Regions from separate parts of the Homo sapiens genome. Here regions 1, 2, 4, 5 and 6 are each linked to region 3. Evidence: fine-mapped expression QTL. A gene starts in region 3. Each other region holds a variant in brackets. All regions are shown on one strand. Distances are between the middles of the regions. Region 1 overlaps FRG1-DT (FRG1 divergent transcript). Region 2 has its middle 43 kb from the start of FRG1. Region 3 holds the start of FRG1 (FSHD region gene 1). Region 4 overlaps FRG1 (FSHD region gene 1). Region 5 has its middle 30 kb from the start of FRG1. Region 6 has its middle 12 kb from the start of FRG2.

Region 1 (5,075 bases), 24 kb before region 3:
TCTAATGTGTTCTAGGCTCTGAAATTAAGCAAAGAAAATCTAGATATGAGTAAGTCCAAGACTTTGCCTTTGTGACAGTCAAAATAATGACCCCATAAAGATGTTCTAGTCCCTGGAATCTGTGACCATATTACTTTACATGGGGCAAAATGGATTCTGTAGATGTGATTAATCCTTGAGTTAGGGGGATTATCCTTGATTATCTTGGGGGCCAATCTAATTGCATGTGTCTATAAAATCAGAGAATCTTTCCTAGCTGCAGTCAGAAGGTGACATGACCACAGAATATAAAATCAGAGAATCTTTCCTAGCTGCAGTCAGAAGGTGACATGACCACAGAACAATGGTCACAGATATCCCACATTACTGGCTTTGAAGATAGAGGGATGGTCCTATGATCCAAGGAATGGGGACAGCATCTACAAGTTGGAAAAGGAAATGGATTCTCTCTAGAGCCTCCAGAAAGCAATACAGCCCTGACAATACCTTGAGTTAAGCCCAGTAAGACCACGGTCAGAGGTTTGCCCTACAGAACTATAGGGTCGTAAGTCTTTGATTTAAGCCACAAAGTTGTGGTAATTTGTTATGGCAGCAATAGAAAATTGATTTTAAGGAGTTTATTGTTTGGAAGATAGGCAGACCAGAAAATCCAAATTATAATATAATTCGATTAAAACCTATGGAGATTTGGGCTAGGTGTTTTAGAAAAGAACTGAGTATTAACAAGACTAACAGAAGAAATTGTTCTAAAATTTACACACTAAGTACATCACATTTTTCTAATGATCACATTGATAGAGCAACTTAGAATCCATGCTTTCAACAAACCAACAGGCTTATATACATATATATATAATTTTATATATATATAATTTTATATATATATAATTTTATATATATAATATATAATATATGGAATAGCCCCACGGGCATGGGCAGCCCTGGGCCACAGGGCAGCACTGTACTAGCAGCCTACACCCCACCTTACCTGCCTACCCTGAGCTGACTTGTCTGCTAAATGCTAAATAAACCTGTCAACCTGTCGGGTTTAACTCAGAAGGGCCTGGATGCAACAAGCCTGAGGGCTGTGACTGGGGTAAGAGAGAGCACAGACGGAGCTCCTCCTCCTTCCACCACTGCCCACCAGCTGAAAACCACCAACTGAAGTTTGCTAAGATTCTCAGCCTACACCTTGTTCCCAACAAAACTCATGCAATACTTTGGCCCCCACTACAATCTCTTGAATAAAATATTCTACGGATCTGCTTTTTGAGCTGCAAGTTATCTTACTAAATTCCAAGAAGCTCATGTAAGAGAAAACCACCACATAATATAAGATTTTCAATGTGATCATCATTGCTACTTTTAACTAGAAAATATCCAGTAAATGTATTGTGAACTGCTTTGTGACTATGGTGATTTATTTAGTCTTTCTGATCCTTGGTTTGATTATCTCAAATATATAAGTATCACCAATTTTATAAAGTTGCTCTAAAAATTAAATGAGAGAAAAATAATTCTCCTTCTCCACATACTGAACACTTACAAAATTATAGGCATTGTGTCCAGGTTTTTACATACTTACCTGATGGAAGTCTCCTAACAACCCTCTCTTTTAAATTACAAGCATTTTGCCACGATTTTTACACATGTATGTTATGGAGGCCTCGCAACAATCACATCTTTTATAGGTGAGCAAACTGAGGCTCAGACGAGTTAAAAACACATTCACCATCAAATCATAATGAGGGACGGAACTGGGATTCAAATCCAGTTCTCTCTGATGCCAAAAATGGTGCAATTTAACAAGGACCAAGTTACACCCAGAACATGGAGGGATCATAACATGTGGATTCCCTTTTCTGCCCCCTCATGTGGGAATTTCAATAGCTTTCACTGCCTCAGAGCAATCCTAAACTCCCTCCCAGGTGCCTTGCAATGGCCCCCTTATTCGTGGGGGTGATTAGGAATCTGCATTTTTGGACCACGAGCATCCATAAACAGTTGTGTTGATCAAGAAATAAAATTTTCTAGGCCATAGGTTACTGTGAATTGTCTAGCTTCTCTGCAAAAAATAAAGGGGCTATTCCATGTAAAAAAATCACAGGATCCACTGAATTTGTGCAGAAAAACTTAGAACTATACCGCAGGAGGATCTTACTGACAGCTGTGCCTGAAGACCAGCCCAACCACACAAAGCAATAGCACCTCCAATGGCCAGGTGTGGTGGTTCTTGCCTGTCATCCCAACAGTGTGGGAGGCCAAGGTGGGTGAATCACTTAAGGCCAGGGGTTTGAGACCAGCTTGGGCAACACAGTGAGACCTTGTCCCTACAAAAAAATCATTTTTTATTATTAGAATCAAGAAGAGTACCTCTAACCCCCTGTCATTGCTTTAGGGTAGAGAGCTCTGGTCTAGAACTCAAGATATGAAATTGTGAATCCCAGTGTAGCTACTTAAGCTTAAATTCAAGAGCTGCCAGACATTTCCTCTACAGCAACGAAATCTGTAGCATCCATTTTGTATTTTGAAAACTTAGTTTTTGGCCAGCCTCTGGGAACAAAAGGACCCAGAATTGGGCATTTGGGTAGGGAGGGAAAAAGAAACCGGCTGGATGCAAAAGGGGAAGACGAAGGGGTGGGGACGCCAGGCAGAGCCAGTCCTCATGCTTGGGGCCTGGACCTAGGAAAGGAACTAGGTGAAGAAGGGAGGAGCCCCAGGCTGTGGATGTCTCTGGGGGAACCTTGGTTCAGCAATGGCCAGAGGAGGTCCTGAGGCCAAGCGGTATCTGTCGCCTCCTTACCTTTGGGTGTCTTCTGGTCGCCAATGTGCTGCAGGTCATGGCTCCGGAATCAAATTGGGCTCAAACGGGGCAAGCTCCAACACAGTGGAGCCTGGCGCTACTCCCACCTCCACCTTGCGGATCTCAGAGCTGCAGGATGGCTCTGCCCACCGCACCCTGAGCTGGCCCCGCTTGGGGCTGGCATTGGGGGACAGTGTGTTCTGGGCGTCTCTGCTCCTCTCTGCTGGTGCCTGTGCCTCTGCTGGCCGCCCACTCATAGATGTCAGAGCCACAGGACGGCCCCGCAGAATCCCTGCGC[T/C]GACCCTGCCGGGGGCTGGCTTTGGTGCACATGCAACTCGTCATCGTGGTCCCCATGGGGCACCTCTGCTCTTCTCGAGGCAGCTTGGGCCTTCGCTTGCCCCCACGTCTGCAGAGCTGAGCACCTGCCACCTCTCCCCAGGAAAGGCAACCAAATGCCACCAACTTAAGGCACCCACTGAAGGCACTAACTGAAGGCCACCAACGGAAGGCCGGTTGCCCTGCCAGCCAGATCGCGTACTGCTTAGGAAGAACCAATCAGGCCTTGAGTTCCCTCCACGTGCTGCCCTTCCATTTGTGATGTGGAAGTCCAGGCACTGGCTCACAAAACCGCGCCCCCCAGTGATGCCGCCCCACCTTTCATTTATTGGTAGCTGGTAGCAACTTTCAGGTTTCCTCACTGTGAATTATGAATATGAATTATGATTAAATTACTGTATGCTAATGTACCTCATGCACTATCTGACAGTCAAAGTCCCCTCTTCCCCCATGGCCTCTGAGTTTTTTGGAAACTAGAAAGAAGACACATTTCTGCAGGTGCTTTCAGAAAAAAACATTGCCACGACCTAATGTTACTCTGTGACGTCAAGTCATATTTCATATATCATACATATTCATATTTATATTCATAATTCAAAATGCACATATTCAATCAAATTAACAGGACTAACAAAGGAAATTTTCTAAAACTTATACACTAAGTACATTATATTTTTCTAATGATCACTTTAATAGAGCAACTTAGAATCTATGGTTTGAACAAATGAAGAGGCTTATGCAAGAGAAAACCACCACCTAACACAAGATTTTCAATGTGATCATCATTGCTACTTTTCACTAGCAATTGTCCAGTCAATATATTGTGAACTGCTTTGTGACTATGGTGATTTATTTAAACTTACTGATCCTTTATCTCAAAAATATGAATAATACCAATTTTATAAACTTGTTCTAAAAATTAAATGAGAGAAAAATAATCCTCCTTCTCTATATATTGAAAACCTACAAAATTAATAACATTGTGTCCAGATTTTTACACACTTACCTTATTGAAGCCTCATCACAACCCCGTCTATTAAATTATAGGCATTATTCCCAGATTTTTATACACTTACCTTATGCAAGCCTCGTAACAATCCCATCTTTTATAGATGAGCAAACTGAGGCTCAGACGAGTTAAAAACACATTGACCATCAAATCATAGTGAGTGATGGAACTGGGATTCAAATCCAGTTCTCTCTGACACCAAAGGTGGTGCAATGTAATGAAGACCAAGTTATATCCAGCACATGGAGGGACCAAAACATGTGAATTCCCTTTCTCTACCCTCTTACGTGTGAATTTCAATGGCTTTCACTGCCTCAGAACCATCCCAAACTCCCTCCCAGGTTGCCTTGCAGTGGATCCTTTCTTCTTGGGGATGATTAGGAATCCGCATTTTTGGACCACAGGCATCTATAAAGAGTTGTGTTGATCAAGAAATAAAATTGTCTAGGCCATAAGTTACTGTGAATTGTCTAGCTTCTCTGCAATAAATAAAGGGGCTATTCTCTTTATTTTTTATTATTCCACTATTCACAATAGCCTAGAATCAACCTAAGTGTCCAAGAAGACTCGGTTTAACCCTGGGGATTACTAATGTTTTCATTGTGGTCAATGTGGTAGATTATATTACCATTCTCCCATTATCTGGTCTTCCTACTGCAGTGGCCCTATCTCCTAGAAGATTATACATTTCTGTCCTATTGAAGTAAGGGTCAGATTTAGACATGTGACCGGTTTGGCCAGTGAAATGTAGGTAGAAGTGGCATGTGTAACTTGTTAGCAGAAAATTTCCTTTTTCAAGGATCTGGGAGCCATCCCTTTCAAATGTAATCCTCCAGAAAGATAATACCTTATTTCCCAGTCTCTATGAGAGAGTAAGAGCCTAATCTTGCTCCAAGTTGTAAAAATTACCTTATATTATAAAGATAA
Region 2 (5,075 bases), 42 kb after region 3:
GAGTGTGGGGAAGTGTGGGGGAGGAGTGTGGGGGAGTGTGGGGGAGTGTGGGGGAGTGTGGGGGAGTGTGGGGGAGGTTGGGGGAGGTTGGGGGAGGTTGGGGAAGTGTGGGGGAGGTTGGGGGAGTGTGGGGGAGGTTGGGGGAGTGTGGGGAACCTCTCCCACCTCCCAGCTGCTTCCAGGAGCCACTTCTTTCGAGATGAGACACTCTGCTGCCTGTCTGTTCCCATTTGGCTGCAATAGACCATTGACAACATTCAGAGAACAAGAAGGGGCCTCACCTGTTTTCCCTGACACGTCGGAGGCAGATGGACATTCCCAGGGGACCTGGGGTAGAACCTGTTCATCTGCCCACCCCCAGGCTGTGCTGGCTTCATCTTATCTGTGTGATGGTGGCGGTGGGAATTACCAAGGGGTCATCACACAGACCATGGACAAGTTCTACAAGAGCCAGGGAGAAGAGCCCTGTCCGTGCTTGCTGCCCAGCACCCAGCTCACACACACACCTCTTATTTGACAGCTTCCCCAAAGCGGGCTTTGCAGTCCAGGCTCCCCGAGAAGCTTGGGGAGGAGACTCTGCCAGTCTGAAGGGCCTATCCCTAAAAAGGTGCCACCCTCACCAGGCTCATCCTGGCAATCTTGGATTATCTTTGCTCTGAGGTTTTGGAGTGGGGGACAGGGAGACAGCAGACACTGCACATCACCCATCTTTCCAGAGAGCATCAGCCCTCCAGACTGGGGCAGGTCAGACCTCCACTTGGGCGTTTTTCTCACTGGTTGCCAGTTGGGGGAAGCAGCATTTGTGAGCACCTGCCTGTCTTCCCAGGTCCTGTTCAGAAACCCCATCTGTGCCTTTGGAGAGACTGCCCTGAGCACACAGGCCCAGCAACCACCATATACGACCCCCAGGACCTAATCCCCCTCTACATAGGGTTCAGTGCATGTTAGCAGACACTGGGCTCGATTCCTGCCTAGTCCCTGCCAGATACCCCATGCCCACCTCGTGAAGAGAATGAGGCCACACAAACACACCCAGACCGTCTTGGTGATGGAGTGCCTGGGGTCCCACTTGCCCACCCTTCATTGCTGGTTCAGAGCCAGCTGTCTGACCACATTCCTACCCCGAGATGGGACTTTGGGGACATTGTCCACCAGGGTCGCTGAGCCCTTTTAAAGTTCCAGACACATGGCCAACTGGTCCCCTAAAAGTTTGGTACATGGGATAAGCCAAGGCTTTTCTTCAGGAACAGGCTTTCCACCACGTCGCTGCCCAAGGCCCAGGGCATCCCCAAGTTCATGTGGCGCCTGCCTGCCATGTCCACAGCCCATGCCGAGCCCTCCTAGAGCCACTGGAATGCTTGTTCCTGGGCATGTGATGAACCCAGACAGCTTCCGCCTTGCAGGACAACTGTGCACATCTGGCAGCAGTAGCCAGAGGGCCCATAGAAGTTGGAGGTGAAACCAGATGCTGTGAGAATACTTTATTAGGCAAAACCGCATACTATAAAAATGCTTTAAAATGCAGCAGGAGATGTGAAGACACAAATGAACGAGCGCATAGTGACACATGGCTGTCAGAACACAGTGAAGGATCCACACTGCTTCCCCCCTTTACCTAGAAAAGGAGAGTTCTAGGCCACCTCCTCCTCCTCATACTCCTCCTCCCTCGGCCGTGGCATCCTGATATTGCTGATATTCAGACACCAAGTCGTTCATGTTGCTCTCGGCCTCAGTGAATTCCATCTCATCCATGCCCTCGCCCGTGTACCAGTGGAGGAAGGCCTTGCGCCTGAACGTTGCTGTAAACTGCTCTGAGACCCGCTTGAGTTCCTGGACGGCTGTGTTGTTCCCAGTGAAGGTGACTGACATTTTTAGCCCCCAGGGTGGGATGTCACAGACGGCTGTTTTTACGTTGTTGGGGAACCAGTCAGCAAAGTAGCTGCTGTTCTTATCTTGAATGTTGAACATCTGTTCATCCACCTCCCTCATGGGCATGCGACCCTGGAAAATGGCAGCCGCCGTTAGGTAGCGGCCGTGACGGGGGTCACGGGCAGCCATCATGTTCTTAGCATCAAACATCTGCTGGGTGAGCTCAGCCACAGTCAAGGCCCGGTACTGCTGGCTGCCCCGGCTGGTCAGTGGGGCAAAGCCGGGCATGAAGAAATGCAGCCGGGGAAACGGGACCATGTTCATGGCCAGCTTCCGCAGGTCAGCATTCAGCTGGTCGGGGAAGCACAGGCACGTGGTGACCCCACTCATGGTAGCAGACACCAGGTGGTTCAGGTCACCATAGGTGGGTGTGGGCAGTTTTAGGGTCCTGGAACATATGTCATATAGCGCTTCGTTATCTATGCAGAAGGTCTCATCTGCGTTTTCTATGAGCTGGTGGACTGAGAGGGTGGCGTTGTAGGGCTCCACCACGGTGTCTGACACCTTGGGCAAGAGCAGGATGCTCAATGTGTTTATAATCCTGTCTGGGTACTCCTCCCAGATCTTACTAATGAGAAGGGTACCCATCCCAGACCCAGTCCCCCCACCCAGGGAGTGGGTCAGCTGGAAACCCTGCAGGCAGTCACAGCTCTCAGCCTCCTTTCTGACAACGTCCATCACTGACTCCGTCAGCTCCGCGCCTTCGGTGTAGCGTCCCTTGGCCCAGTTGTTTCCGGCCCCACACTGACCTGTAAGACAGCACAGCCGGTCACTCGACGGCCAGGTATACGGTCATCAGTGGTCACCACCATAATGCAGAAAGGGCCAAGTGTCACGTGTGAGGTGAGAGCACCATTCGCCCTGCAGGTGGAGCAGATGAAACCCCCTCCCCCGGAGTTACAGGACAGCAGCTTCCCCTCTCTTAGGAATTAAGTCAGGAGTCAAACCTGAGAGGGGCTAACCTCACTGCAGGTGGAACAAATGAAAACCCCTCCCCCGGAGTTACAGGACAGCAGCTTCCCCCGTTAGGAATTAAGACAGGAGTCAAACCTGAGACGGGCTCACAGAACTCGCTGCAGGTGGAACAAATGAAACCCCCTCCCCAGGAGTTACAGGACAGCAGCTTCCCCTGTTAGGAATTAAGTCAGGAGTCGAACCTGAGACGGGTTCACAGACCTCGCTGCAGGTGGCC[CA/C]TTCTCAGGGAAGGCAGTAGCCACGGCCCCAGCTCAGGTCCTTGCAGGGAGTTTACATCAGTAGCTCCTCACCTTGAGGAGACACGCGGGCCTTCCTCCCGAAGCCCGTTTAGGAGGCAGATGGAGCGACTCGACTCGGAGGACAGGAGGGTGTTCAGGGGCCCTGGCGCCACAGTTCCCACAGGATGACCTTGGAGCGTTCCTGGATTTCGAGCTGCCCTGGCTAAGGAGCCGCACCCCAGTCCTCGCCCGCAGCTCACGGGAAATGAAGTTGTCTGGCCTGAAGACCTGCCCGAAGGGCCCCGAGCGCACAGAGTCCATGGTGCCCGGCTCCAGATCCACGAGCACAGCGCGGGACACGTACCTGCCACCTGCGTGGGGCGGGAGGGCATGAGCGAGGGGAGGGCCGCGTTCCCAGGAGGGCGGTGGGGGAAGGACGGGGGTCGCACCGCTGGCCTCGTGGTGGTGCACGTTGATGCGCTCCAGCTGCAGGTGGCTGTCCCCGTGGTAGGTGCCAGCGGAGTCGATGGCATGTTCATCAGAGATCACCTCCCAGAACTGCGGAGACGGGAGGGGCCAGACAGGCCGGGGCTGAGTCACGGAGGCGCCCCAGCCGCTCTCCCACCCCCATCCGCACCCCCATCCCCAGGCCGCCCTGTCCCTGGGGTCCACCCCCGCCGCCTCGCCAGCCACCCGGTTCCACCGTCCCCGGCAGGGAGCCCAGGGGCCGCAATGCAGGGGCACCGCCCCCGCCGCTGCCAACATCTTCCCCGGCCACCCGGCAGGCCCGGGCTGGGCCCTCAGAGCCCCGGCTGCCAACCTTGGCGCCGATCTGGTTCCCGCACTGCCCGGTCTGCGTGAGCACAAGCTCCCTCGTGGCCAAGGCAGGATTAGGGCGGCAGGAGAAGCGCGAGAAGGAGGAGCAGACGCACAGCGACCCAGCCCGGCCTCCGCCAACGCTTAAACAGCCCCGCGCCCACCTCCCTCAGCCTAGGATTGGGCTCCCAGAATAAGCAACAGCTTTACTTCCACACAGGTGCACCCACCTGTGACTCCCCTGGCGTTGAACGTCTGTTGGAGAACTCAGGTGTCCTTGCGTGGTCCCTTCCACGTTGGGGAAAGCTGCTCAGCTGGAGAACTTCCTCCCACGTCTTTAGTAAGACTAAATCCCTAGCTGAGCTGAAACTGAATTTTCCTCCCATGTGGGAGGGGAAGACGCTTGTTTCCATATGCACGGAGTGCCTTTGCACCTGTCCTAGATTGATGACATATTTTTGTAATTGATGAATCTTTTCATCTATTAGGAGATCTGTCGTTAGGAAAGGCCTTCCACATGTTAACAGGACTTAATTATACGTTTTACTTTGGAGCAGTTCAAATCTGCAGTAAGCTATGGGTGTTAGAGATAGTCAGGCCTCTGATTTAGCTAGAGTCTTCTTTAGGATTAGCCCTTTCACCTTTCCAGAGGACTGCGGTCTCCACACAGAGTGAAGGTAATATTGGATTCTTAAAGCTGAGGATAGGTGTTGGGTTACGCCTGCTGTGAAAGATGGGCCATTGTCACTTTGCAGGCTTTTAGATTACCCAAACTGAGGAGTTATTTCTTCTGGTAAACATTTTTCAGATGGGGTGGGGAATGCCTCGATCTAACCAGTGAAGGTATCAGTAAGCATTAGCAAATATTTGAATCTCTTGCAGAAAGTCATTGGGGTACATTAGAGTTGCCAGTTCTCACCTGGATAGGTTCCTTAATTTTGGACAGGTTTAACTGGAGGAGAAAATTGCTGGCCGTTTGGGTCATGTCAGGCACAGAGCTCACAGTGCTGAGTCACCTGTTTTAGTGTCTTGAAAAGATTTACCCCTATAAACAAGTGAGACATTAACAGAAACAAAGAATCCCTTCTAGGGTGAAAAGAATCATGAAAGTGCTGAGTTATACTCTTGTGATTGGTA
Region 3 (5,075 bases):
TTTTTCTCAGAGTGTTCTTACACATCTTTAACTGTAAATATGACAAAAGCACACAGTATAGTACATTTATCACATGTATAAATGCTGTATCTAGTCATACAATTTTCCTTTTAAAAAAGAAATATTTTATTTTCAAAAAGCAAAGACTCTAGGAATCTTTTCTAGCTGCCAGTCATAAAAACATAAATTCCTGGTTAGTTTCCCAAATTTGCCTGACCATAAGAACCACTTGTGATACTTGTCAAACACATGTATGCTGAGTCCCATCCATGATCTCCTGAATCAGAATCACCAGGTGAGAGGCCTGGGAATACACATTTTAAACAAATGTCCACAGTGATTATGATTAGTAAAGCTTGAAAAACATTTCACTAGGATCTTTATGACTGAATAACCTCACAAACATAGGAAAGTTACTGGAAAAAAATATGAGCAGAATTTCAGAATTCTGCCTTTGCTGAAAGTGTTTGTTCCCTCCTCCTCTACTCATCAAGACCTGACTGCTTATGCAACTCCCCCAAACCATCAATGGGAAGAGCTGAAAATGATTTTAATGAAGAAGAAAAGCTGATGTTTAATTTCAAAACTGACGGTTTGAATAGAAGGGAGAGGCATGAATTTATCTTGATTCTAACAGAAAGCATTGTATTTGGGTCTACAAACGAAATTGGTTTCATTTTTATTTTTTGTAAGTTTTCGCCAAACTCTGTGCATATATAGAGGCTGGGCAAGAAAGAAAGAAATCCAGAAATACGGCATATGCCATCCCTTATTTATTTCCCCATGCGACCAGCCAACAGCTTCTTCACCTAGTCCCTGCTTCAAGCTGACTTTCAGTCTACTTCTCTATCGGAAATGGAGCTTCCCCAAAGACTGCCTCAATGTCAGTTACCCAGAGGCCTTTTTTCCATCTTGGGCTCCTAAACTTCTATGATATTAAATGATACTACCCTTTCTGGAAATTCTCCTTAGCTTTGATTTCTATAATTTAACTCTGTTTCATTCCTTCTTTTATAGCCTTTCTTTTCTCTATCCCTTTACTGTAGACATATTGTACGACTTTGTTCTTGACCTTCTGATCTCTCCACATTCATTCCTTCAGAGCATGTATCCATTTTCTTGGTGTCAGGCTTCCTGACTATCTGATTATTACCATCATATAACGATGTTGGTGATGAGCATAGCTAACATATCCTAGGCATTTTCCATGTAGGTTATAATAAGCACCCTATATAACTCGTACCATTTAATTCTTCAACCCTAAATGATACTATTACTAACCACATTGTATGAGACGAGGAAACAGATTTTCATCAAAACCCTGGAAAGCCAACGTGAGGAGCCCCTGTGTGTCTCCTTTGTTAATGACTCCGGGCATCATGGCATGTGGATTGCCATGGAATGGGGATTAGGAAGCGCAGCACTGTGAAAACACCAGAAAATACGTTGATAGCGGTAAGGACGCTCATCTCTGCACATTGTGACGGTTTTGTTTCTGAGTCAGGTTTGAGATGAGCCAATCCTGACTCCATGGTGCCACCAGGGATCACGAATTTAATAAGATCTTCGTGGATGCTTGGAACCCAACTGGTCTCGGTTTTCTACTTTAGGGAAAGAGCCACAGCTTGAGTGGGGTGGTTTTGGTGTCACATACGCGATTAATAACACCCACCGCTGCAGAGGAATCACCGTGGACTACTCCTCCTTTCATCCCATGCTCTTGCGATGGATCCCTCTCACCTGTTTACTGATTTCATTCAAATTCTTCAGCGACCACAGGACCCCGACTTGCCTTCTCTATCCTGGTTCCCTCACTCTGCTTTACAGGCCTGGCCTGCTCGCTGCTCCTCACACCAGCGCTGCACGGCTCCCTCCACGCCTCCGCCCTGTTTCCTCCATCAGACAGGACTAGCTTCCTCCATCTCTGTCGGGCAAATGCCTGCCCAGCCTTCAAGACCCTCCTCAGATGCCGCCTCCACGATTAGGCTTCTTTCAGACCCCTGAGCCTGTAACACGGGCTACCATAACTCTCCACCTCAGCCCACATTCCCACAGCACTCGCGACGTCCGCGACCCTCAACATGGCGCTTCATTCTCTTTTAGGGTATTTCCTGCTTGTTTCCTGCACACACAGTCGCGCGAGGCGCAGTCCTGAGTGACCCACGCACGAGTGGCCCGCGCTTCCAGCCGCGCCGCCGCAGGCCAGCGAGGGCAGCCTGAGCCGCTTCCCGCCCCGGCGAGGACCGTCGCCAGCCCGCTGCTCTAGCAGGAGGCGGTTCCACAGCGCACCCGGCAGCCCAGCCACCGTCAGCACCGCGCCTCGGGCGGGCTTTTCTCCCTTCCGGGAGGCGCGAATCCTCAGGGGCTCCTTGAGAGGGCGCCAGGGAGCAGCTGCGCGCGGATGCCTTTTGGCCCTCTGCGGCCGCCGTAGCTCCCCGGCAGAAACCCGGAAGTGGAACTCTGAGCCATTCAGCGTTTGGGTGAAGACGGAGGCGGGTTCTACAGAGACGTAGGCTGTCAGGGAGTGTTTATTTCGCGTCCGCTTCTGTTTCTCCGCGCCCCTGTGCTGCCCCGACTCACATACTCGTCCAGAACCGGCCTCAGCCTCTCCGCGCAGAAGTTTCCCGGAGCCATGGCCGAGTACTCCTACGTGAAGTCTACCAAGCTCGTGCTCAAGGGAACCAAGACGAAGAGGTGGGTCCTGCAGCTTGGGCGGGAGCCTCCTCCGTTCTTTTCGGACGCACTCCACCCCCGCAACTCCGGTGGAAGCCGTGGCGCGGAGAGCCGGCTTTGTGGCCTCCCAGGCTTCGCCCTGGCCCCTGTCCGGGCTGGACGGAGGCCGGGCCGCGGTTCCCGGCGTCTGTGCAGAGAGGGGCAGCCTCCCGCGCGGACGACCCTGGAAACAGGATAGACGGGCAGGTGACCCGTGACCCCGTACCCACGAGTTTGGGTCCCCTGAGGCATCTCTCCAGGCCTCTGCCTGGGGGGTCTGCATTAGTCTGATCTCGTAGTTCATGATAATTTCCTTTATTAGGGATTATTATTTTCTCCATTGTCTCTTTTCTTTCTAGAAAACTTATTAATTTTTTCTAATCTAATATGTACAGTGAAACCAGGATGAATCACACAGTGGTTGAGGTGTATATGGGCTTTAGGGATATGGGCTCGAACCTGCACTCTTGTCATTTACTAGTTTTGTAATTTGTGGCAAATTGGTTAATATGTCTGAACTTCCATTTACTCATTAAGAGATCAAATATCTGAACCTCCGTTTACACATTTATACTTTCAGACGTTTTTTATACTTTTAGAAGACTGTGAGGATTAAATGAGAGAACATATATGCAGAAAATAAATTGAGCCAAATGTGAGGAGGAGGTCGTAATGGTAATTTATTAGCTTTTTAGGAAAAAATACCTGTGCACTCATATCCCCGCTTCTTTTTTAACTGGCAGATTTGCCCGAGGTACATACAAATGTCGAGTATTTCCTCCTGGTCTCCGTGATAAACAGAGGTTTTGATATTTTTAGGCGAGATAGAAAGTATCAAGGAGTGAGTTGAAGCCACTGGCCTTGAGAACCCTCTCGAGGAGTCTGGCCTCATGAAGATGCCAGAATAAATGGCAGGTTTATCCTGAATGAATGTGAGATTTTTACTCTGTGAATTTCCTGGGAGGAGAGGAGAGTTATCTTCTGAAAACTTTATAATGAAAATGCAGACACGGGTGTCTTAAGATCATCGTAATAATCATAATTAATGCTCATATAGCACTGTCAATGTGCCAAGAAATTGTTGTAGGCACTTTGCACATTAACTTTTTTTCAAATCACTCTTGGTTTTTTATTTTTTTATTGAGATATAATTCATAATTATAAAATTCACCCTTTTGTACAGTCAGGGGTTTTTAGTATATATTCAAGAGGTTCACCACTGTCTAGTTGCTCAGCATTTTCATCATCTCAGAAGGAAATCTCCCCCTACCCATTAAAGCAGTCACATCCCATCCTCCCCCTCTCCTAGTCCTTGGCAACCACTAATCCGCTCTCTATGTGAAATCGCCTATTCTGAATATTTCCTAAGAAATCATGCAACATGTGGCCTTTTGTATCTGGCTCCTTTCACTTATAACATTATTGAGGTTCATCATTGTTGTAGCGCCTGTTCCTTTTTATGGCTGCATAGTATTCCATTGTATGGATGTATCATTTTGTTCATCCATTCATCAACTGATGAACATTTGGGTTGTTTCCCCTTTTTGGCTATTGTGACTAATGCTAGTGTGAATATTCTTATGTAAGTATTTTTGTGGGTGTATGTTTTCATTTCCCTTGGGTATACATACTTAGGAGTAAAATTGCTGGGTCATGTGGTAACTTTAACTTTTTGAGGAACCCCAAACTGTTTCCTGTAGATGCTGCACCATTTTACATTTCCACCAGGAATGTGTGAAGGTACATATTACCTCTTAATCCTCACAATAGCCTTAAGAGTTAGGTTAAGTTACTATCCTAATTTTTTAAGTGGGGAAACTGACTCAGAGAGATTCAGTACCTTTTCCAAAAATCACGGAGCTAAGAAGTGAAAGAATCAGGATTTAAAATCTGGCAGTGTGGCTCTACAATCTGCTTTGAACTCTAACGTAATATGTGCAAAGCCTGAAGCAACTTCTCAGTACTGTATTTAAGAGGGCATATCAATGTAAGTCTTCCTAAATCAATAATTTATAAATGAAACAGCTTAAAAGACTTTCAAGTTTCAATCTTACAATATTTATCGTACAAATCAATATACCTAAACTCGTCTATATAAATTATGTCCTGTAGTAAGAAGAAAAAGAGCAAAGATAAGAAAAGAAAAAGAGAAGAAGATGAAGAAACCCAGCTTGATATTGTTGGTGAGTCAGTTTTCAGTGCTCTATTCTGAAAAAAGTTAATGTTTCTTGAGATCTCCTTGAAAGTGTTTTCCTAGTTAGAAATTTATGATGTATTCATATTTGTCTTAAAGTGCTTAAATATTACCTACAGTTATAAATTCCATTTATTCTTTAACACAGTAGATGCTACTGATGCCTTTA
Region 4 (5,075 bases), 23 kb after region 3:
TCAGAGCTTCCAAGACCACAAACTTAAAATAAGTAAAGAAGACAGTAAAATTCTTAAAAAGGCTCGGAAAGATGGATTTTTGCATGAGACGCTTCTGGACAGGTAGCTATTTATTTACTTATTTCCACTATTTTCAGTAGCCAATAGAAATGGCATGTAGAAAACCTACATTCTCTTAAATTACTGTAGTTTTTCACATTTTTGTCTTTATTTCTAATTTATGAGTGTGGCAATATTACCTAAAGAGGACATCGTAAGTTTGGGAAAAGACTGTCATGAAAGAATATCTAAAAATTATAACCGATTCTAAGTATATACTTGAAGAAATTCAGGTTTGACTGTATCTACTTCATAAATTTATCATCTTTTTATAACTATTAGAACCAGAGTTAGAAGCAGTTTGACTAATATAAAAATTATGTGGATTCTGTTAGAGTAGTTCAGGTTCCTTAAAATAAGAATAGATCAACTAAAAAACTAAGTATAAAAGCTAAACAAGTGAAATTGAAGCAGTTTTATTATAAGATTTGGAAGAGTGCAGGATGTTTATCATACCACATTATTAATATTTATTACTCTTCCTAGGTAGATAAGTAATGTCCTAGATTTATGACATAGAAAAACAGAGACGTTTAGCTGTGAGTGTACAAGTATAAATCAATTAAGTGCCAGATTTTGATAATCACCAGCCGCTCATTCAAGTCGTATGTTGCAAAGTTACTCTTACCCTTTTTTTTACATTACTTGATAAAGGCAATGTTTAATTACGTATTTCCTGTTAACTAGCTGGTAGTGTTCATACCTAAAGTCAGTAAATAATGTTAAGAATTTTTTCCAGCTGAGCAAATGAATATGTATCTCATTGTAAGAAATCAAGAAGAGGATATAAAATATAATCAGGATGTGGACTCTAAAACGGAATAAGCTCTATGTCCTGTAACTTTTATCACTTGTAATAATACAGCATTCTCACCCTGTTAAATGGAAATTTAGAGCAGCCTTAAATTCCGGAATAATTAAAATTGCTATTTGGATTGAAAAAGCCCTTAGGCAACATTTATTGAATATTAGGAAATAACTTTTATAAGATTAGAATCCATTTTTTATAGAAACCAAATTTAAAAGTATACATATTTTAATAAAAGTGTTGTGGTAATAACCAAAATTGAACACACAGTTTTAAAGCTTTTTATATTTAGTAGCAGTTGAATATATATGGCATGTTTTACATAGATTAATTTTATTTTTCTTTGTTTAAACAGGAGAGCCAAATTGAAAGCCGACAGATACTGCAAGTGACTGGGATTTTTGTTTCTGCCTTATCTTTCTGTGTTTTTTTCTGAATAAAATATTCAGAGGAAATGCTTTTACAGAGTTCTTGAGTTGTGAAATTATTGTTTAGCTAGTTTAACCAGGATTAAACAAGTTTAATCAGGATTCTTCATGGATGTACTTTTTAGCTAACTACAGTTTTTCACATGGAAATGAAACTTACAGTTCACACTTAATGTACCACAGAATTTTTTTCTGGATTTCCTGTCCTGAAGCATGAAGTGTACTAGAAACCAATTCTTCCTGCGCTACTTGTGGAATCTGTCTTACTGGATCATAATCTTACTTTACTTTATATAATAGATGCTTAATCAGTGCCTTTAATAGAAGTTAGAAACTCCCAATCCAATCAACAAGGCTTTGGTTCTACCTTCTAAGTACTACCCAGATCACAGACAATCCAAATATCAGAACTAGGGGGCTGGGCAGAGAGGACAAATCATCTATTAGGGAGTGGGACAGAAAGCAGAAACATTACAAAGGAGCAAGTAGGCTCAGAACAGAGGGGAGAGTAGTACTGGGGAAACTCCCTGCTGAGGACAGGTTAGCCACAGTGGATATGTATGTGATGCCTTTGTCCTTGTGGGCTGGAATGGAAGCTGGTAAGGGAATAGGAACAGCTCCAGTCTACAGCTCCCAGCGTGAGCGATGCAGAAGACGTGTGATTTCTTCATTTCCAACTGAGGTACCAGGTTCATCTCACTGGGGAGTGTCAGGCAGTGGGTGCAGGACAGTGGGTACAGTGCACCGAGCATGAGCCAAAGCAGGGCGAGGCATCACCTTACCCAGGAAGAACAAGGGGTCAGGGAATTCCCTTTCCTAGTCAAAGAAAGGGGTGACAGACGGCACCTGGAAAATTGGGCCACTCCCACCCTAATACTGCGCTTTTCCAACACTCTTAGCAAACGGCACACCAGGAGATTATATCC[T/C]GCGCCCGGCTTGGAGGGTCCTGCGCCCAAGGAGCCTCGCTCATTGCTAGCACAGCAGTCTGAGATCAAACTGCAAGGCGGCAGCGAGGCTGGGAGAGGGGCACCTGCCATTGCCGAGGCTTGAGTAGGTAAAGTGGCTGGGAAGCTCAAACTGGGTGGAGCCCACTGCAGCGCAAGGAGGCCTGCCTGCCTCTGTAGACTCCACCTCTAGGGGCAGGGCATAGCCAAACAAAAGGCAGCAGAAAACTCTGCAGACTTAAATGTCCCTGTCTGACAGCTTTGAATAGAGTAGTGGTTCTCCCAGCAAGCAGCTGGAGATCTGAGAACAGACAGACTGCCTCCTCAAGTGGGTCCCTGACCCCCGAGTAGCCTAACTGGGAGGCATCCCCCAGTAGGGGAAGACTGACACCTCACATGGCCGGGTACTCCTCTGAGACAAAACTTTCAGAGGAACAATCAGGCAGCAACATTTGCTGTTCACCAATATCTGTTGTTCTGCAGCCTCCACTGCTGATACCTGGGCAAACGGTCTGGAGTGGACCTCCAGTAAACTCCAACAGACCTGCAGCTGAGGGTCCTGACTGTTAGAAGGAAAACTAACAGAAAGGACATTCACACCAAAACTCCATCTGTACATCACCATCATCAAAGACCAAAGGTAGATAAAACCACAAAGATGGGGAAAAAACAGAGCAGAAAAACTGGAAACTAAAAATCAGAGCACCTCTCCTCCTCCAAAGGAACACAGCTCCTCACCAGCAACGGAACAAAGCTGGACGGAGAATCATTGACGAGTTGAGAGAAGGCAGCTTCAGACAAACTACTCCGAGCTACAGGAGGAAATTCAAACCAATGGCAAAGAAGTTAAAAGCTTTGAAAAAAAATTAGACAAATGGATAACTAGAATAACCAATGCAGAGAAGTCCTTAAAGGACCTGATGGAGCTGAAAACCACGGCATGAGAACTACGTGATGAATGCACAAGCCTCAGTAGCCGATTTGATCAACTGGAAGAAAGGGTATCAGTGATGGAAGATCAAATGAATGAAATGAAGCGAGAAGTTTAGAGAAAAAAGAATAAAAAGAAACGAACAAAGCCTCCAAGAAATACGGGACTATGTGAAAAGACCAAATCTATGTCTGATTGGTGTACCTTAAAGTGATGGGGAGAATGAAACCAAGTTGGAAAACACTCTGCAGGATATTATCCAGGAGAACTTCCCCAATCTAGCAAGGCAGGCCAATATTTAAATTCAGGAAATACAGAGAATGCCACAAAGATACTCCTTGAGAAGAGCAACTCCAAGACACATAATTATCAGATTCACCAAAGTTGAAGGAAAAAATGTTAAGGGCAGCCAGAGAGAAAGGTTGGGTTACCCACAAAGGGAAGCCCATCAGACGAACAGCTGATCTCTCCGCAGAAACTCTACAAGCCAGAAGAGAGTGGGGGCCAATATTCAACATTCTTAAAAGAATTTTCAACCCAGAATTTCATATCTAGCCAAACTAAGCTTCATAAGTGAAAGAGAAATAAAATCTACAGACAAGCAAATGCTGAGAGATTTTGTCACCAGCAGGCCTGCCCTAACAGAGCTCCTGAAGGAAGCACTAAACATGGAAAGGAACAACCTGTACAAGCCACTGCAAAAACATGCCAAATTGTAAAGAACATCGAGGCTAGGAAGAAACTGCATCAACTAATGAGCAAAATAACCAGCTAATATCATAATGACAGGATCAAATTCACACATAACAATATTAACCTTAAATGTAAATGGGCTAAATGCTCCAATTAAAAGAGAGAGACTGGCAAATTGGATAGAGTCAAGACCCATCAGTGTGCTGTACTCAGGAAACCCATCTCACATGCAGAGACACACATAGGCTCAAAATAAAGGGATGGAGGAAGATCTACCAAGCAAATGGAAAAAAAAAGGCAGGGGTTGCAATCCTAGTATCTGATAAAACAGACTTTAAACCAACAAAGATCAAAAGAGACAAGGCCATTACATAATGGTAAAGGGATCAATTCAACAAGAAGAACTAACTATCCTAAATATATATGCACCCAATACAGGAGCACCCAGATTCATAAAGCAAGTCCTTAGAGACCTACAAAGAGACTTAGACTCCCACACAATAATAATGGGAGACTTTAACACCCCACTGTCAACATTAGACAGATCAACAAGACAGAAAGTTCACAAGGATATCCAGGAATTGAACCCAGCTCTGCACCAAGCAGATCTAGTAGACATCTACAGATCTCTCCACCCCAAATCAACAGAATATACATTCTTTTCAGCACCACACCACACCTCTTCCAAAATTGACCACATAGTTGGAAGTAAAGCACTCCTTAGCAAATGTAAAAGAACGGAAATTATAACAAACTGTCTCTCAGACCACAGTACAATCAAACTAGAACTCAGGATTAAGAAACTCACTCAAAACTGCTCAACTACATGGAAACTGAACAACCTGCTCCTGAATGACTACTGGGTACATAACGAAATGAAGGCAGAAATAAAGATGTTCTTTGAAACCAACGAGAACAAAGACACAACATACCAGAATCTCTGAGACACATTCAAAGCAGTGTGTAGAGGGAAATTTATAGCACTAAATGCCCACAAGAGAAAGCAGGAAAGATCTAAAATTGACACCCTAACATCACAATTAAAAGAACTAGAGAAGAGCAAACACATACAAAAGCTAGCAGAAGGCAAGAAATAACTAAGATCAGAGCAGAACTGAAGGAAATAGACACAAAAAACCCTTCAAAAACTCAATGAATCCAGGAGCTGGTTT
Region 5 (5,075 bases), 30 kb after region 3:
AATCACAAGCATTCTTATACACCAATAATAGACTAACAGAGAGCCAAATCATGAGTGAACTCCCATTCACAACTGCTTCAAAGAGAATAAAATACCTAGGACTCCAACTTACAAGGGACATGAAGGACCTCTTTAAGGAGAAATACAAACCACTGCTCAATGAAATAAAAGAGGATACAAACAAATGGAAGAACATTCCATGCTCATTGGTAGGAAGAATCAATACCGTGAAAATGGCCATACTGCCCAAGGTAATTTATAGATTCAATGCCATCCCCATCAAGCTACCAATGACTTTCTGCACAGAAATAGAAAAAAATACTTTAAAGTTCATATGGAATCAAAAAAGAGCCTGCATTGCCAAGTCAATCCTAAGCCAAAAGAACAAAGCTGGAGGCATCATGCTACCTGACTTCGAACTATACTACAAGGCTACAGTAACCAAAACAGCATGGTACTGGTACCAAAACAGAGATATAGAACAATGGAACAGAATAGAGCCCTCAGAAATAATGCCACATGTCTACAACCATCTGATCTTTGACAAACCTGACAAAAACAAGCAATGGGGAAAGGATTCCTTATTTAACAAATGGTGCTGGGAAAACTGGCCAGACATATGTAGAAAGCTGAAACTGGATCCCTTCCTTACACCTTATACAAAAATTAATTCAAGATGGATTAAAGACTTAAATGTTAGACCTAAAACCATAAAAACCCTAGAAGAAAACCTAGGCAATACCATTCAGGACATAGGCATAGGCAAGGACTTCATGTCTAAAACACCAAAAGCAATGGCAACAAAAGCCAAGATTGACAAATGGGATCTAATTAAACTAAAGAGCTTCTGCACAGCAAAAGAAACTACCATCAGAGTGAACAGGCAACCTACAGAATGGGAGAAAATTTTTGCAATCTACTCATCTGACAAAGGGCTAATATCCCGAATCTACAATGAACTCAAATTTACAAGAAAAAAAACAAACAATCCCATCAAAAAGTGGGCAAAGGATATGAACAGACACTTCTCAAAAGAAGACATTTATGCAGCCAACAGACACATGAAAAAATGCTCATCATCACTGGCCATCAGAGAAATGCAAATCAAAACCACAATGAGATACCATCTCACACCAGTTAGAATGGTGATCATTAAAAAGTCAGGAAACAACAGGTGCTGGAGAGGATGTGGAGAAATAGGAACACTTTTACACTGTTGGTGGGACTGTAAACTAGTTCAACCATTGTGGAAGTCCGTGTGGTGGTTCCTCAGGGATCTAGAACTAGAAATACCATTTGACCCAGCCATCCCATTACTGGGTATATACCCAAAGGATTATAAAACATGCTGCTATAAAGACACATGCACACATATGTTTATTGTGGCACTATTCACAATAGCAAAGACTTGGAACCAACCCAAATGTCTAACAATGATTGACTGGATTGAGAAAATGTGGCACATATACACCATGGAATACTATGCAGCCACGAAAAATGATGAGTTCATGTCCTTTGTAGGGACATGGATGAAGCTGGAAACCATCATTCTCAGCCAACTATTGCAAGGACAAAAAACCAAACACAGCATGTTCTCACTCATTGGTGGGAATTGAACAATGAGAACACTTGGACACAGGAAGGGGAACATCACACACCAGGGCCTGCTGTGGGGTCAGGGGAGGGGGGAGAGATAGCGATATGAGATATAACTAATGTTAAATGAAGAGTTAATGTGTGCAGCACACCAACATGGCACATGTATACGTATGTAACAAACCTGCCCGTTGTGCACATGTACCCTAAAACTTAAAGTACAATAAAGAAAAAAAAAATTCCATAGTGGCGATATAGAACAGTTTGTTTAACCATTCAGTCATTGGAGGATATCTGGGTTGTTTCTAGTTCTAGGCTATTACAAATAAAGGTGCTCTGAACATTTCTGTTAAAAAAAAAAAAAAGTTAAGACGCTACGTGTTGCTTAGGTCTGCTTTGTTGAAGCCTGTCTCTTTCAGAGTTCCTAAACACAATATTCCCATGGCATCTAATCCTAGTGAGTGCTCCAAATCCAGGCTGTGTATCAGATGCCACGGGAAATTCTGCCTCAGGACTGAGTTTGGTTCAAGCATCTGGATGTTGTCAAAAGTCCACGTTGTGTGCTGGCCTAATCTGAAAGACCCTAACTAGTTCTAGCCTTTAAATGCCTTCTGTCATCAAATCTAGAGTTACATGGCATTTGTACAAGCTAGGTAGCTGAGGCACGGAATCAGCCCTATAAAGGAGCTTTTGGTGCTTTTGTTGTAGGTCTAGCTCCAACTTGGCACTCCAGTTCCCATAGCTAGACTTTCTCTCATCGTGTGTTCTGATCCTTGGATTAGGAACAAAGTAACTACTCTGATACAAAGCAGTGGTTTCGGTTCCCAACTAGTGACTATTTTGCCTCCCAGGGGACATTTTTGGTTTTCACAACTGGGATACGGTGTTAGAGGGTAGAGGCTAGGGATGCTGCGAAGCATGTGGCAGAATCCTCTTCC[G/T]CCCCGAATGCTAATAGTGCCAACGTTGTGGAGGCTTCCCACCCAAGGGCTTGGTCTATTCCTTGCTTTTGCCAGCTCCCTAAACCTTAAACACATTTCAAATTTATATGCATAAGCATCTCCTAGGGACCTGCCCGTTTCCAATATCGACTACTGAGACCCATCCGTAGAGATGCAGGCTTAGGAGGTCTAGGATTGGGCTGAAAATTTGCATTTTAACAAGTACTCCAGGTCATTCTGAAGCAAGTGATACAAACCACACACTGAGGAACACGCCTTCAAGAGACTGAATCTTGCTTCCCAACACTAGCTTGCTATCTGAGACCATCTGCCTGCTGCTGGCTTTCCTGGCACAAACATTCTGCATGTAGGCACAGTGTGCTCCTGGACTCCATGTCACCTCGTTCACCCTCATGTTCCCTCGGTTCCTGTCCCCAGTCCAGCAAGCAGAACTGATTACAGATCTTAACAGAAGATACAGATTGAAAATAACTTGCCTGTTCCCGTGGACTTTATCCACTAGTCAAGGAGGACAAGTGGACAAGGGGAGAGGGTAGGTGGGGGCTCCTTCCCTGTTCCTCCCATTCCACTTTATACAAACCCCAGCTAGACCACTGGGAGAGCAACAGAGGTTAAGAATGACTGCATCTAAATATTTAATTTGGCCCACTCTTCTTCTGTCTTGAACACAAGGGTATCATGAGTTTTGTTTAAAGCACTACTGAAACCAAGATAAATTCTGGCTTAGCATGCCCCTGACAGATCAATCTAGTAATCTTATCAAAAAGATTGAGAAATCGGATGGTTGCTGTGTCTGGGTAGAAAGAAGTAGACATGGGAGACTTTTCATTTTGTTCTGCACTAAGAAAAATTCTTCTGCCTTGGGATCCTGTTGATCTGTGACCTTACCCCCAACCCCTTGCTCTCTGAAACATGTGCTGTGTCCACTCAGGGTTGAATGGATTAAGGGCGGTGCAAGATGTGCTTTGTTAAACAGATGCTTGAAGGCAGCATGCTCGTTAAGAGTCATCACCACTCCCTACTCTCAAGTACCCAGGGACGCAAACACTGCGGAAGGCCGCAGGGTCCTCTGCCTAGGAAAACCAGAGACCTTTGTTCACTTGTTTATCTGCTGACCTTCCCTCCACTATTGTCCTGTGACCCGGCCAAATCCCCCTCTGCGAGAAACACCCAAGAATGATCAATAAAAAAAAAAAAAAAACCAAGATTACCTAAAAGCACTAACCAAAGGAAAACTCCCTCACCTCAACCCGTGACTGCTCACATTTTTCAGATTGAATAATTTCAATTGTATTTTAAGGTTGACTCTTTACCACCTCCAAGCTGCTCCTGAACACAACTATTATTTTTTAATTTTGAAAAATTTTTCACTTCTAGAATTTCCACTTGAGGCTTTGTTATTACTGTAGTTTCTTCTTCTCTGCTGTGATTTTCTATCCATTTATTATAAGAGTTTTTGGGGTTTTGATTTTAGTAAGAATTATAATAACTACTTTAAAAAATCCATACTAATTCCAACATCTCGGTCGTCTCGAGGTCAGTCTCGATTGATTGCCTTTTTCTTTGAATATGTTTCTTGGTATGTTTGATATAATGGGATTGAATCCTGAAGATTGTAAAAACTGGATATTTTTTGTTCCTCTGAAAATTGATAATTTTTTGTATTTTTTTTTCTATTGTATACTTTACATTTTCCTCCAAGGGTTTTAACATTTCTAGTTCTCAAAACATTTACATTTATGTTAAAAATTATACAAAGTAGCTTGGTACAGTGGCTCCCATCTGTAATCCCAGCACTTTGAGAGGCCAAGGCAGGAGGGTCACTCGAGTCCAGGACTTGGAAACCAGCCTAGACAACAGGACAAGACCTTGTCTCCACAAAAAATTATTAGGGTGATACAAAAAGTAATTGCAGGTTTTGCCATTACTTTCAATGGCAAAACCCACAATTCCTCTTGCACCAACCTGATAAAAAATAAGCTGGGTATGGTGGTGGTATGTGCCGGTGGTCTCAGCTATTTGGGAAGTGAAGGCAGAGGTGGGAGGATTGCTTGAGCCCAGGAGTTCCAGACCACCCTGAGACCCTGTCTCTACGGGGAAAAAAAAAAAAAAAAAAAAAAATTAGCTGGGCCCACGTACCTGTGGTACTAGCTACTTGGGAGGCAAAGGCAGAGGTGCCAGAATCACTTGAGCCCAGAAGCTCAAGGCTGCAGGGCACTGTGATTGTGCCACTGCACTCCAGCCTAAGTGATGGAGCATGACCCTGACTCCAGATAATAATAATAATTACAAAAAGGAAAGACCTAGAACACCAGGTTAAAGTATTCTAAAATTTAGCTGACTTACTCTGCTCTCTATAAAACAGGGTTGCCACAGAAAATATAGCATGCCCAGTTAATTTTAAATTTCAGATAAACAAATACTTTTTTCAGTGTAAGTATACCCCATGCAATATTTGGGATATGCTTATACTAAAACTTATTCTTTGTTTATCTGAAATTGAAATTTAACTGGGTATTA
Region 6 (5,070 bases), 74 kb after region 3:
AAGCTGCCCAGGGCCAGTAGGGAGCCCATTGCCCTGAAAACGGCAAGTCCCAGGCCAGGCAGCATTCATCGCAAGTTGACAAGAGGTTTTGGGCCTTAAGGGAACATTGGTGGTAGCCTGGCAGTACTCATTGTGGCCTGAGGTGGTGGTGGCTACTCTGCCTTTAGGAAAGGAAGGGAGGAATGGGAAGGACTATGTCTTGTGGTTTGAGTGTCAGGTCAGCTGCAATGCAATAGAATGTCAGGTGGACTTCTAAAACTTTTGACTCTACTCCCTGACTTCTGAATGGCACTTCTCGACCCAGCCAGGGACTGAGGGCACTCACTGCCCTAAAGGAAAGAACACAGGCCTGGCTGGCTTTGCCACCTGCTAATTGTAGAGACCAAAGGCCTTGAGTGAACATAGGCAGTCATCAGAAAGTGCATGCAGCAGGACTTGAGCAAGACCCAGTGCTGTGCTAGCTTCAGGTCTGATCCAGGGCAGTCATAGTGGTGGTGGCCAGGGGTGCTTGTGTCTTTCTTCTCCCAGCTTTAGGTGGCTTAGAACAGAGAGAAAGACTCTGTATCTTTGAGAGAAAATAATGGTAGAGAACAAGAGTCTCTGGCTAGTAATCTAGAAAATTCTCCTGGATCTTGTTGAAGGCTGTCAAGGTGGTACTTCTCTGAGTCTGGAAGAATTACAGCATTATTGGGTACAAGGTACCCATAAAGCAGATATGGCTTAGATCACAACACCCAAGTCTTTTAAAATATGTGAAAAGTCTTCCCAAGAAAGACAGCTACAAATAAGCCCAGACAGTGAAGACTACAATAAATACTCACCTTTTCTCTTTTTTAATTTTATTTTTTAAACCTCTCATATGGTGCTGCATGCCCAAGAATTTAATGTCCAGACACTGAATAACATCTACTAGCATCAACACCATCCAGGAAAACATGACCTCACCAAGTGAACTAAATAAGGCACCGGGGACAAATCCTGGAGAAAAAGAGATATGTGACCTTTCAGACAGAGAATTCAACATAGCTGTATTAAAAAAAAACTGAAAGAAATTTAAGATAACAAAATAAAGAAATTCCAAATTTTGTCAGCTAAACTCAACAAAGAGATTGAAAAATTTACAACAAATTAAGCAGAAATTCTGGAGCTGAAAAATGCAATTGGCATGCTGAAGAATGCATTAGAGCCATTTAATAGCAGAATGGATCAAGCAGAAGAAATAGTGAGCTTGAAGACAGGCTATTTGAAAATACGTAGTCAGAAGAGACAAAAGAAAAAGAATAAAAACAACAAATCATGCCTACAGGATCTAGAAAAATAGCCTCACAAAGACAGATCTAAGAGTTATTGGTTTTAAAGAAGATGTAGAGAAAGAGGCAGGGGTAGAAAAATTTATTCAAAGGGATAATAACAGAAAACTTTCCAAACCTAGAGAAAGATATCCATATCCAACTACAAAAATGTTATAGGACATTAAGCAGATTTAACCCAAAAAAAGACTACTTCAAAGCATTCAATAGATCTTCCAAAAGTCAAAGATAAAGAAAAGTTCTAAAGGAAGAAAGAGAAGAGAAACAAAGAACATAACAGTGAGCTCCAACACCTCTGGCAGCAGACTTTACGGTGGAAACCCTACCGGCCAGGAGAGAGAAGCAATAAATATTTAAAGTACTAAAGGAAAAAAAACCTTTTACCTTAGAATAGCATATACAGTGAAAATATTCTTCAAATAAAAAGAAGAAATACTGACTTTTCCAGACAAAAGCTGAAGTATTTTATGAATACCATGTCTGTCCTAAAGGAATGCTAAAGAGAGTACTTCAATCAGGAAGAAAAGGACATTAATGAGCAATAAATGATCACCTAAAGGTAAAAAAAATCCTCAGTGCTAATAGGATACAAAACAAAACAGAATATTATAACGCTGTAGCTGTGGGATGTGCAAACTACTCTTATTCAAAGTAGGAATACTAAATAATATCC[A/T]ATCAAAAGTAATAGCTACAACATTTCCAGACATAGCACAATAAAATATAAATAGAAACAACAAAAAGTTAAAAAGTGAAGGGATGAGCACACCCGTCCTGAGCCGGCCGATGTGGTGGAGCTCGGAGCTCGGGAGCCGGGGACGCCCTGGAGCGTGGGCGGAAGGGAGGCCGCCCCGAGAGCCGGAAGCCTGGGCAGGGCACGGAGGCCTAGGACGCCCCCCAGCAACAGCAGGGCGGCGCCACATTGGTCCTGCGCGAGGCCTGGCCGCCGGCGACGGCGGGACGCTCTGGGAGGCCGGCGGTGCTCGGGCGTAGAGGGAGACAGCTGCCCGGGGGCACGGACGAGCGGCTCTGGGGGTCCCGGATCCGAGCCCCGCTGCCCCGGGGTGGCGGTGACGCCTGGAGCCGGGCGGACGTGGCTGGGCCGGGCTGTCGGGGCGGGCAGGCGCCGCTGCCGGTGTCTAGGCCACACCACCCTGAGCGCGCCCCAGCTCCTCTGAGCTCGTGAAGCTAAGCAGGGTCCGGCCTGGTTAGTACTTGGATGGATTCCGCCTGGGAATAGCGGGTACCGTAGGCTTTTGGCTTCCCGCTCCCTCCCTCTTTCCCCGTTTTGTCTCCGTGCTTCCCAACCGCCCCCTCCCTCCACCCTGTCCGCCCCTGCGCCCCAGCCGAAGCCCAGGACCTCCCCCTGAAGATCCGCCACTGCAGCACCGCCAGGCAGCAGCATCCCACCTTTTCCGACTCGCCGCAGCCCCACCAGGAGCCGGGCTCCAACCCAGGCGGACTGGACCGACCCCGAGGGCGCAGGCGCGGGTTCCCTGAGGTCCCGGGTGTCTTTCACGCTCCCCGGAAGCCCAGGCAATTCATTCATCCAGCGCCGCTGCGACGGTCCAAACCGGGGGAAGGGGCGGGCAGGGGCAGCGGGTCCCACAGACGCCAGCCGAGACCTCCGCTCCGGAACCCGTGGGCTGCTTTACCCGGGGGAAGGACATTGCCCTCGCCAGCCGTGAGGAAATCCGTCCCTGTGCACTTTGCCACCGACTTCGTGTAAATTCCAGTCCCGAGGACACGAGAGAGACCCAGGCCTGGCCCCGTGGACAGGCTCAGAGCCAGGGCTCTCGCCAGACGGATGGGCGCATCTACAAATCTGGGGGGCCACCGCATCGAGAAGACAGAAAGAAGCAAACAAAGGAAGGACCCTATGAAACGCACCCCCAAAGCAAACAACCAATCCAAGAAAAAACACGTCTCAGGGCTCCGTTGGTTTTCCCGCATGGGGGGCCCTGACCCCCTGTTCTAGCCCGGCCTAAGCACCCTCCACCCCACCCCGGCCTGCTCAAAGGGGGCCTGTCTACCTGAGCAGAGCCTCCCTCTCCAAGGCTCTGTCGCTCTCGCTCTGCAACTCCCTCAGCCTCTCCCTTTCTCTACTTCCCCTTCCACCTCGCGCTCTTCTGTCGCGCTCTCTCTTTCCCTCTCTCTCTCTCTCTCCTCCCCCACTCTCTGTCTCTCTCTCTCTCTATCGCTGTCTCTCTCTCTCCCTCTGGTTCTATCTCTCCATTCCTCTCTCCCTTCCTCTCCTTCTGTAGCAGGAGGAGCCGCAGACAAAACCCCTCAGACACCGAGTTGTAGAAGGAAGGGCTTTATTCAGCTGGGATCATCCGCAGACTCATGTCTCCAAAAACCGAGCTCCCCGACTGAGTAATTCCTGTCCCTCTTAAGGGCTTACAACTCTAAGGGGGTCTGCGTGAGAGGGTCGTGATCCATTGAGGAAGCAGAGGGTACTGACTGGGGGCCGCATGCAGCGGTAATTAGATCAGAACAAAACAGGACAGGGATTTTCACAGTGCTTTTCGATACAATGTCTGTAATCTATAGACAACATAACCGAGTAGGTCAGGGGTATATCTTTAACTACCAGGCCCAGGGTGTGACACCGGGCTGTCTGCCTATGGATTTCATTTCTGCCTTTTAGTTTTTACTAAAAGCGGTGCGCCCATGTGTGTCTGTTTGGGAATGGGTTTGCTCGTGATTGTGGTGGGGTGTGTCTGGATGTCCGTCAGTAACTTTGTCCCGGGATCAGGCTGCCTACTCTATCGCCAGCGCATGGGTGTCACAGTTGCTGTGTTAGTCTCAGTACGCAGAAATTGGGCATAAGACAATATGAGGGGTGGTCTCCTCCCTTACTTCAAGCTATCTTTGTCTGTGTCTGTGTCTTTGTGTGTCCGTGTGTGTGTGCCCGTGTGTGTCTCCGTGTGTGTCCGTGTGTGTGTGACCGCGCGCGTGCTCCCGTGTGTATCTGTGTGCGTGTCGGGGTGGGTTTGCTCGTGGTGGTGGGGTGTGTCTGGGTGGCCCATCAGCCCCTCTCCCCCGGGATCAGGCTGCGGGGGCTCTAGTGCCAGCGCGGGGCAAAGCAGGGCCTTGGCCAACGGGGCGAGTCCTCGTTGGGACAAGCGACAATGGTGTGGGCGTTGTGAGAAAAAGGGCCCTCAGGGCTGGGCCGGCTGTTTGCCCCTGGACAGCCCTGACGGCTCTGGGTGTGTGGGGCAAGAGGGGGCCTTGCAGGAGGGGCGGCGAGGGATCCAAAACAATTTTTCTGCGGCAAGACGAAGGACCGGAGGGGATCCCAGGACAGTTGGCCCTGGGCCCTGACGCCTCGGAGCACACCCCGTCCTGAGCCGGCCAGATGTGTTGGAAGCTTGGGAGCTCCCAAGCCGGGGAAGGCCTGGAGCGTCTGCGAAAAGGGAGGCCACCTGGTGTGCCTGGAGCCTGGGCAGGGGACTGAGGTCTCTGGCTCTCCCGCGCTGCAGCAGGGCGGTGCCACGGCGCGTTCTCTGGCCGCAGGCGACGGGGGTGGCTCTGGGAGGCCGGCGGAAGGCGCAGCGCGGCGGCCGGCGGTGCTGGGACCTTGATGGCGAGAGCAGCCCGGCCGCGGGGGAGCGGTTCTGGGGCCCCGGATCTGAGCCCCGCGGCCCAGGGGTGGCGGTGACGCCAGGAGTCGAGCAGCCGCCACTGCCGGCCTTTACGGCCACACCACCCTGAACGCACGGGATCTCGACTGACCTTGAAAGCTAAGCAGAGTCGGGCC

What was found. PIP is the estimated chance that this variant, and not a neighbour inherited with it, causes the effect. A credible set is the group of variants that fine-mapping cannot tell apart.
Region 1: its variant is the best candidate, but not a certain one, in a credible set for the expression of FRG1 in neutrophils (BLUEPRINT, PIP 0.55).
Region 2: its variant is the best candidate, but not a certain one, in a credible set for the expression of FRG1 in whole blood (INTERVAL, PIP 0.63).
Region 4: its variant is the best candidate, but not a certain one, in a credible set for the expression of FRG1 in whole blood (TOPMed, PIP 0.88).
Region 5: its variant is the best candidate, but not a certain one, in a credible set for the expression of FRG1 in whole blood (TOPMed, PIP 0.76).
Region 6: its variant is the best candidate, but not a certain one, in a credible set for the expression of FRG1 in visceral fat (GTEx, PIP 0.89).

What each region holds. Positions count from the first base shown.
Region 1 is chr4:189,914,289-189,919,363 of GRCh38, forward strand. The region is part of intron 2 of FRG1-DT (FRG1 divergent transcript); the gene reads right to left. Among named protein-coding and RNA genes, the nearest start is that of FRG1-DT, 24 kb to the right of the region's middle. The variant T/C (reference allele first, on the strand shown) is at 3,102.
Region 2 is chr4:189,980,873-189,985,947 of GRCh38, forward strand. It overlaps the pseudogene TUBB7P. Among named protein-coding and RNA genes, the nearest start is that of FRG1, 43 kb to the left of the region's middle. The variant CA/C (reference allele first, on the strand shown) is at 3,122.
Region 3 is chr4:189,938,378-189,943,452 of GRCh38, forward strand. FRG1 (FSHD region gene 1) reads left to right here and starts at 2,495. Exons shown (of 9, transcript NM_004477.3): 1 at 2,495-2,694; 2 at 4,825-4,895. The coding sequence starts at 2,633. It overlaps FRG1-DT (FRG1 divergent transcript), which reads right to left and starts at 2,356. Exons shown (of 4, transcript NR_149039.1): 1 at 1,282-2,356. RefSeq lists an enhancer at 2,801-3,300.
Region 4 is chr4:189,961,831-189,966,905 of GRCh38, forward strand. It overlaps FRG1 (FSHD region gene 1), which reads left to right. Exons shown (of 9, transcript NM_004477.3): 8 at 1-102; 9 at 1,263-1,362. The coding sequence ends at 1,299. Among named protein-coding and RNA genes, the nearest start is that of FRG1, 23 kb to the left of the region's middle. The variant T/C (reference allele first, on the strand shown) is at 2,262.
Region 5 is chr4:189,968,014-189,973,088 of GRCh38, forward strand. No RefSeq gene overlaps it. Among named protein-coding and RNA genes, the nearest start is that of FRG1, 30 kb to the left of the region's middle. The variant G/T (reference allele first, on the strand shown) is at 2,535.
Region 6 is chr4:190,012,694-190,017,763 of GRCh38, forward strand. It overlaps the pseudogene RNA5SP174 and the pseudogene RNA5SP175. Among named protein-coding and RNA genes, the nearest start is that of FRG2, 12 kb to the right of the region's middle. RefSeq lists a silencer at 3,894-4,091. The variant A/T (reference allele first, on the strand shown) is at 1,984.